2 separate regions of the Homo sapiens genome follow, and region 1 is linked to region 2. Evidence: fine-mapped QTL for protein levels in blood plasma. A gene starts in region 2. The other region holds a variant in brackets. All regions are shown on one strand. Distances are from middle to middle.

Region 1 (2,880 bases), 98 kb before region 2:
CTTGAGATTTTCCTCATCTGAGCGCTCCATACTCTCCCATAGGCGTTGGGTGGCAACGCCAGGCTCCTCGCTGCTCCGCCCAGAGGCCCCTGCAAGGCCTCGTGAGGGCCTCCGGCCTGCCAGTGCCAATGCTGCGGTGGCCTCCCCAATGCTGGGAAGCTCCCCAGCCTCAGGTCCCCCATCAGCCCGGCTGTATTCGGCACACAGGTTCAGGATGGTCTCCAGGCGCTGGCGTTCCTGGGGAGGATGGACAGAGCAGGACATGAAGGGGAGGAAGCTGAGCCCTGGTGGGGATAGAGCCAGGTTCAGTATCCTGTCAGGAGGGAGAGCAGGGTTACAGGGGGCTAGGACATCAGTGTCAAGTCAGGAGAGGCCTGACCCCAAGACCTAGGGGAGGCAGAGGGAAACAAGGTGCCCCAGAAGTGGGCAGGAAGAAC[G/A]AGGCTGTTGTGCCACATGCCCACATGGCATAACAGCCTGGTTCTTCCTGCCCACTTCTGGGACAGCCCCTTCCATCTTCCTGTTCCTTTCTTTTTTCAGTCTACCCCAGGACACACAGGAACACACCAAATGGACCCACAGTAACACACTAAACACATACAGAAACACACTGTTAAGCAGACTACAGACCACAATGAGACACAGATAAACTCAGTTGCTCGTCCTGACGCAGGTACACACAGATCTACAGACACAAGGACACATACTGACACACCAGCACTGATGCACAGGCACACAAGGATACAACATGTGCCCTGGCCCTGCATTAATAGGCAAGTACAGAGACACCAGCCCTGACATGCACAAATGCACACTGATGCACACTCACAGATAAACACAGTCTAGCATACAGACAGGTGGGCATGTATGCAGACAGACAGTGCTGGAAAACAGACCCATGAGCCCACAGGGACCAGACACCCAACCACAGACATACATGGAGAAGAGGTAGACCAAGGACACGGCCCTCTTTGTCCCCACCTCAGCTCCAAGTTACCCTCAGGCAGCCCTTGGCTGTTTATCAGCAGGATGGGCTGCTGCCAGTCCTTGAATGCCCAGGCCCATGAGTGAGTACTCCCATGGCCCTACCACTTCATCCACCCCTCTCCACATACACACCCACCCAGATACAGTCACCTCTCAGGGGCCTAGGAGGTAAAGGAGGGATGACACAATCACATTCCTGGTCTTTGTTGCCTTTTCCCGCAGGCCTACCTATAGGCCTGAAGCCTGGTTTGTGAGGCTTCCATGGCTCTCTAGGGTCCCTAGACCTCCTCAAGTGTCTCTCATCACTTACAGTTTGGCCATGAACCCAAACCGCAGGAAGTGGAGAGAAGGCTGGAGAGGTGTTCTCATACACTTACCCAGCTTCCCTCCTGTTGCTTGCCCAGTTCCATGGCAAAAAAAAAAAAAAAAAACCGGAACAGAGCCTCGGCACCTGGGAGGCTGGGCCAGTGCCTCCACCCCTGCCCCAGGACCCAGATAAGCAGCCTGGTTGAGGTGGGAGGGGCAGGGCGGGCAGCCTCCAAGACTTAAAGTGGCAGGTGAGGCAGGTCAGGACTAGTGGTAAGATGTGTGCTTATGTGTGGGAATGGGGGTGGGAAAACTGATGGAGGAGTTGGGGGAGGCTGTGCCTGCCACTCTGCCTGTGCCAGGCTCACTGCCCCCTCTCCAGGATGAGACCCCAGCTTAGAATGGCCATGCATTCCCGTCTAGACCAATGCAAAAACAGTGAAGAGAAGATGCAGCAAAGGAAAAGATGGGATCCGCCTCATCTCACCCCCATCCAACACAAACACACAATCCTATACCCTCATCCAAAACTGTCCCAACCTCTTCCAAAAGCATCTCCAGATGCTTCAGTTCTGGTTCTCATCAGTTCTGGTTCTCTTCCTCAAACCAATCCCAGGGTTCCTGCCCACCTTCCAAAGAACCCTGTTCTGCTCGTAAGGGACAGAGGGCAGAATCCATTCTTCTGTACATGGGCTCGACTGTGTACACACCAGCCAGAGCCCCTTAAGCTCCCTGAGCTATCTGGGGAATCCTGGCCCCCACCCAGCTCAGATGCCATCTCCAGGACAGCTGCCTAGAGCCACACCCAGCCCCTGCATGCACCCACGTGCATGCACATGGACACACACAGTCACAATTACACAGGCTGGCTAACGGTCAGGCCAGGGTTGCCTATCCTGCTCTGTCCCTCTACCCTGCCACCTGCACTCCTAGATGATACTGCCTGGGCCAGGATGAGCAGCTCCCACCCACTTGTAGAGGCCAAAGACAAGCAAAAAAGAAGGACAAGGTACTTTTCTAAAGAACAAGTCTCAGAAAGAGTCAGACAGGGGACCTGGGTTCCAATTCTAGCTCTGCCAGAACTTGCTGTGTGACCTTGGACAAAGCCATTCCCCTCTCTGAGCTTCAGCCTACTCATGATCACCAACTGCTTCTCAAACTGGGAGGTTCGAGGTCTTACCATACCTGTGGTATGTTTTCCTAGAGCTTCACTGTGCTCAGGTAAACAATGTGAAATTTAATTTAACATTAAAACAAATGCTATGTTGAATAAATGCAAAATTAGCAAGAATTTAAAATAAAGTCTTAGAGATTTCAAAGGAATTTCTTCTTCACGGCACCAGAACCATAAGATATTGATCACTAAAGTGTATCCTGGAGGTGGGGAACCTTGAGAAGCCGAAGCCCTGTTTGAGGGCCTCTCCTGCTCTGCCAGCTGGCCTGCTCGAGCCCTGGCAGAGACTCTGCCATGGACAGTGGCAAGCCTCCCTGGCACCCGCTCACCAGCCTCTCCATCTCCTGCTCCCGGAGCCGCTCTTGGCGCTGTCGCCGGTGGTACTCCAGGAGGTCGTCCTCATTGTCACTGATCTC
Region 2 (5,398 bases):
AGGAGGAGGGTGGCAGGCCCCTTCCCCAGTACCTTGGCTGGTGAGGAGGCCGCCGGGCTCCGGGTCCAGAAGCTCTGGCCGGCTGTTGTTCTGAGCCATCTGCCGGTCTGCTGGTTTCACTGCTGGTTGACAAAGAGGGCAGTGTTCAGGACGAGGAGTGTGCCTGATGAGGCCTCGCCCCTCCCAAGCACCAAGTTCTTTTTCTCAGAAGCACTTCTGGAGATTAAGCAGGGGCAAAGAGCAGGGCCCTAGATATACCTCTGGAATCTGGAGTGAGGTCATTGAGCTGAAGGTTGGACGGGAGGGACATGTTCTCCCGTGGCAGGCGCACGTTGTTGAGTTTTAGGTTGTTGGAGTCACTACAGGGAGGACAAAGTTCGGGATGGATATGAGTCCCGGCACAGGCACTCATGGCTGCCTCTACCAGAAACCCCAGGCTCCCTCCTGTCCCCATCCTGCATTTCGGTTAGGCTTGTCCACCCAGCCCAAGGAAGAGTTACCTTGATATCAGAGATGGGTGCCGGGAGGGGCCTGTGGAGAAAGAAACCATGTCCCTAATTCTCAGTGTGCCCTCCCACGCTGGGCTGTCCTACCCTTTCAGACCCAGGACCCTCAGGCAAGGGGTCTCTCAAATGCCCAGGCCTGGCCCTGGGGCCAGAGACTGGGTTCCCAGTGCTTGACCCTGCTACCTGGGATGCATGTCACCGTACCCATGGCCACCCCCTGGAAGTGCTCTGCCACCGTCAGAGATGACTGGTTCTGCCCAGCTGCACTTGCTGTCTTGGCTGCTGCTCAGCCTGACCTCATCCACACTGCCCCCAGTGTCCCTGGCCTACCTTTGGTTTTCTTCTCTTTTCTGCAGACCAGGCAGGCCACCAAGGTGCTGAACCCCACGAGGGTGCCCAGTGCAAGCCCAGCAGCCACAACAATGCCCAGCAGTGGCACTTCCACCCGGGTAGCCAGAAGCCCTGGAGGATGTCCTCTGTGTCAGGTCCCAAGTGGGTAGTGCCCCAGCCCCAACATGCCATAGGTACTACTCTGCCCTCCTTGCCCAGGGTGGCTGGGGACAGTTCATCCACAAGACCCAACCACAGGGCAACAAGTATTCCCATTTCTGTATGGGGACGGGACCCCTGAGCCCACCTGAAGCTTTGCAGGGCCGCTTGCTGGCCATGCTCACCTGGGGCTGGAAGCGACGCACTGGTGACACCCACGTCATTGGTGGCCACCACCGAGAGGTTGTGTGCCAGGCTGCGGAGCTGCAGCTGCACCGTGTGGTTGGTGAGCCAGGGGTAGTTCTGCGCATCCAGCACCAGGAAGTCAGAGGTGTTGACAGTCACTGGCCCATCCTGGTCGATCCAGGTGACATTGGCCGGCGGGTTGGCACGCACCAGGGCAAACAGGACAACCAGGAGGCCTGGGCCCTGAGCTTCCTGGTACTTGGCGCCGACTTGGGCAATCTCTGGCTTGACTGGTACAAAGCAGAGGCCAATATGCTCTCACCACAGCCCCTCATACTTCTAGCCCTTTCTTCCCAAACCCAGATGGGAGCCAGGGGCCTGGGCCTCTCCTCAGAGGGGATGCTGAGGAACAGGATGGCTGGGTCTGCCAGAGAGGCAGCATTTCGGAGTGATTATGAGTGTAAATACTAGAGCCAAATGCCCAGATGTGAATCCTGGCTCTGCTTCTTACCAGCGGGATCATCACCCTGGGCAGATTGCTTACCTCTTTCTGCCTCAGTTTTCTTATTTGTAAAATGGTGACGACAATAGTAATGACCTCATGGGGTTACTCAGAGGATCAAATGAGTTCATATTTGCAAAGTGCTTAAGTGTCTGCTAAATGTCCTGCGGACCACCTGCCTGGTGGGTGCTGGGGGTCCCTGGGCAAAGAACCTATCTCCCTGCCCACCTCAGGGCCACTCACATTGCACATTAAGGATGACAGAGGCGTTGGCTGATCGGCCACTTCTGGGGTCCTGCAGAGAGCAGTTGAGCTCATGCTGGGCCCGATGGGCAGTGACAGTGAAGGTGCTGGTGCCTCCAGAGAAGGCCTCCCCTCCCACGCTCAGCAGTCTTGAGGTGCTGGCCTCCTGCAGCTGTCCATCCAGATACCAGGCCAATCTGGGGGTGCCAGGCCCCCCTGCCACCCGGCAGGTGAAGGCGTGGCGTTCATTCTCCCGAAGTGCCCGCTCAGCCCAGGTCTGACCATCTATTTGTGGCTCCAACTCCCCCCAACCTGGAACACAGCAGGAGGCCTCTGGGAAGGGCTCAGGCACGGTTGGTACTGTGCTGTGACCAGGAATTGGCCCAGTGAGAAGAGCAGCAGGCCAAAGGAAAGGGCACCTGAGTCCTCTCACCAGGGACTGGCTGGTTGGACCTAGGGTAGGTGGGTGAAGGGGACAGGGACTCCAGGGCTTGGGGCCTGGAGTGGGTACCCAAACAGAAGTGCAGACAGGGGAGAGAGGGGGCTTTGGAACCCAGAAGGACTTGGTCAACGACTGAACAGGGGTGTACCTGAGCTCAGAAGGGCTGGCAGGAGCAGCAGTGTGTGCCGGAGGGCGGCTGGGCCTGGAGGCAGCGCCATGGTGGCCCGGGCCTAGGCCCTAGGCTGCTGAGAGAAGGGGGCGGGCCTGTCAGCCAGGTGACAGCAGGCAGGCCTAGCAATTGCTCCAGGAATTTACTCTCCAGAAACAAAAAGAACCATGTACGGAAACGCAAATGTAGACCAGCCCCCAGTGGCGAAGGCACGGACACGAACGGCAAAGCCCAAAGGCACAGACCCACCCAGCAGACACATGGACATCCTGCAGGCGCAGAAGCGAGCACTGACTCCAGGCTACAATACAAAGAGGCACACACCCGCAGATACGCAGAAGCAACGAGCATCCGTGCAACCACACCTTGCACACACGCACACTCACACACATACTCCACGCGCCCCTCCCCCAAAGGGATCGCCTTTCTCCTAATCCTATTCTCTCTCCTGCCCTGTTCCCATCCTCTCTCCTGCCCTGTTCTCTCTCCCATCCCTCGCCCTACGCCCCCTTTCCTGATGTTGGTGGCTCCGGTGGATGTCGGCGGAAGAGGAGAGGGTCGGAGGGTGGGGTCGCCGAGCATCCCGCCCCCGCCCCCCGCCACCGGGGCGGCTCACCTGGCTCCCTCCCCGAGCGCCGCCGGAGCAACTGCTCAGGTCTGATGAGCACCGCAGTCCGCTGCAGGGGCGGGGGCTGCGCCAGGCGGGGCCAATCGATGCCCGACCACGGGCCCGAGGGGCCCTTACCCGGCAGGTGGGCGGCCGCGGCTCACCACCCCCCGGCTGGTCCCCAGCCCGCGCCGAGTACCCCCGAGTGCCCTTCTCTCCGGGCGCGGGCAGGACGCAGGAGCAGGCGGAGTCGGTGAGGCCCGACGGCTTTATTGGTTCAGGGCCCAGTCCCGTCCCCTCGCCCGCGGACGCCCGGGTCCGCGGCGCTCAGCGGCTGTCACGGGGGCGGCGCAGCTGCCCCATCATGTCGGCCAGCATGCGGTTGCACAGCGCGGCGTAGGGGTTGAGCAGCACCAGCTGGCGCCGCGCGAAGGGGCTGCCCAGCCGTGCCGCCCTCTCGAAGTCCCTGCGGGCGTCGTCGTCTCGGCCCTGCAGCCGCGCCAGGAGTCCGCGCTGCACAAAGCTCTGGCGGGCGGCGCGGCCCCGGCCGCCGCTCAGCTCCACCGCGCGTTCCAGATCCTCCAGGGCGCCTGCGGGACCGACGAGACGGGCGGGGCGGGGGTCAGCGGAGGCCAGGGCGGCCTTGCCCGAGCCCCAGCCCACCTGCGGCCGCGCGGATCACCGTGGTTCTTGCGGCTCCCGGGCGTGGCCATTTACAACCCGCCTCGCACCTGCTAGAGGTACGGATCGTTATTCCCATTACACAGATGAAGACTGTGGAAGAGTTAAGCTCTACAGCCAAGCCACTTAGTGGCAGAGCTGGGACTGAAGTCCAGGTCTCGCCTTGTTCCTATTATTTTCCACCGCTAATACACGAAAACATGAACGTTGCAGGATTCTGAATGGCCACTATGTTTATGAGTCTGGCCCACTGCCCGGGCAAGTAGCAGCCAATTTATTCCACACCTGTTATTAAGCATCCACTATGTGCCAGGTGACTGACTCTGAATGTCAGGGTTCAAAAAATAATATTAACCGCACAATCATTTCTTACAAGTACAATCAAGACAGTTTCTCATTGTTTTCCTTTTGAGGGCCGTTTTCTCTTTTCCATTGCTTTCTTTAGAACACCTTCTCTCTCCCCTGTATCCTGGACTGATTGCCTTTCATCATTCTTTGGTTATCTCCATGTATCTAATTTCCTTGGTCCTGGAGCCAGAGCTGGCCTGCACCATTTTTATTGTTATTATTCTCATAAAATACTTGGGTTGGGCCTCAGAACTCTGAACTCAGAACTTCAGGCAGCCAGCCACCTTCTTAAAGTCCACCAGGCTGGCTTCTTTCGGGCTCTGCTTCAATTCACTCATGTTCTCTAGTCCCCCAAAGAGCCTGAGCCTCCGGAGAAGCGCTCAGAATGCAGTACTCCTTGGTTTCCCTCGGAGGAGCTGGTCTGGAGGAATCTCCAGTTGGAATCACCACTGCATCTCTCTGGGGTTTTGGTCTGCAGGCTGTCTCCAGTGATCTGGGGCAGATAAGCCTGGATAAGGGGCTCCTGGGAGGTTCCCATTGTTCCTGGAGTGGACTCAAAACTCCCTAGCCTGGCATTGCTGGTTCTGGGAGCACCTGTGTCACCACTGCTCCTAACAGTCAAGTAGTACTAGGTTTCCGTGGTTTATACCTTCACATTAGCCTCATCTTTGGTCCCCAGCATGGTCCCATTGTCTTCACTTAATTAGAATAACCTGAATGCAGCAGGAGTTTTGGACCTCTACAGACTGTACCTTCTCCACCCACCAACTAACTCCCACTCATCCTTCAAAACTCGCCCTTCAGGAACAGGTCCCACGCTGACCCCTCTCGAACTTGTTTTGCTGGTCTCAGAATTATGTGTCTGCCCTGCCTCCTGGACTGGGAGCTTTTCGAGGAGCAGTATCATGTGGGGATTAAGAGCACACACTCGAGCCCTACCACCTGGTTGACATCCCAGCTCTGCTGCTGCCTGACTGTATGATAGTGGGCAAGTTACTTAGCCTCTTCATGCTTCAGTTTCTTCATCTATAAACTGGGGATAACAATAGTACATACTTTTTAGGGTTGTTGTGAGGATTGATTTACTAGTTTGTATGTAAAGTGATTAATGCCTGGTACATAGTGACTGCTATATAAATGTTGGTGATCCATATACCTTTTATCTCAGTGTCCTCAGCACCAGCCTACTGCCACATAGTAGGCTCTCATTAACTGTTCCTTAATC

Which allele goes with the higher level. Positions count from the first base shown, and alleles are read on the strand shown. Strength reflects both the effect of a copy and how common the allele is.
With allele A in place of G in region 1, the plasma level of the protein whose gene starts at base 3,196 in region 2 is lower (strong association).

The links. PIP is the chance, under the fine-mapping model, that this variant and not a neighbour inherited with it causes the effect. Protein levels are from antibody-based Olink assays in UK Biobank. Linkage for the fine-mapping came from a reference panel and not from the study's own genotypes, which makes the PIPs less certain.
Region 1: its variant is fine-mapped to the plasma level of the TMEM25 protein (UK Biobank, PIP above 0.99).

What each region holds. Positions count from the first base shown.
Region 1 is chr11:118,628,564-118,631,443 of GRCh38, reverse strand. It overlaps PHLDB1 (pleckstrin homology like domain family B member 1), which reads right to left. Exons shown (of 23, transcript NM_001144758.3): 6 at 2,794-2,880; 7 at 1-237. Among named protein-coding and RNA genes, the nearest start is that of MIR6716, 14 kb to the left of the region's middle. RefSeq lists enhancers at 1-108, 109-617. The variant G/A (reference allele first, on the strand shown) is at 438.
Region 2 is chr11:118,528,990-118,534,387 of GRCh38, reverse strand. TMEM25 (transmembrane protein 25) reads right to left here and starts at 3,196. Exons shown (of 9, transcript NM_032780.4): 1 at 3,154-3,196; 2 at 2,517-2,613; 3 at 1,927-2,238; 4 at 1,181-1,471; 5 at 837-968; 6 at 501-531; 7 at 259-359; 8 at 33-122. The coding sequence starts at 2,586. TTC36 (tetratricopeptide repeat domain 36) reads right to left here. Exons shown (of 3, transcript NM_001080441.4): 3 at 3,395-3,734. The coding sequence ends at 3,472. TTC36-AS1 (TTC36 and KMT2A antisense RNA 1) reads left to right here and starts at 3,613. Exons shown (of 3, transcript NR_120574.1): 1 at 3,613-3,884. RefSeq lists silencers at 2,949-3,048, 3,079-3,518, 3,639-3,918, 4,440-4,734.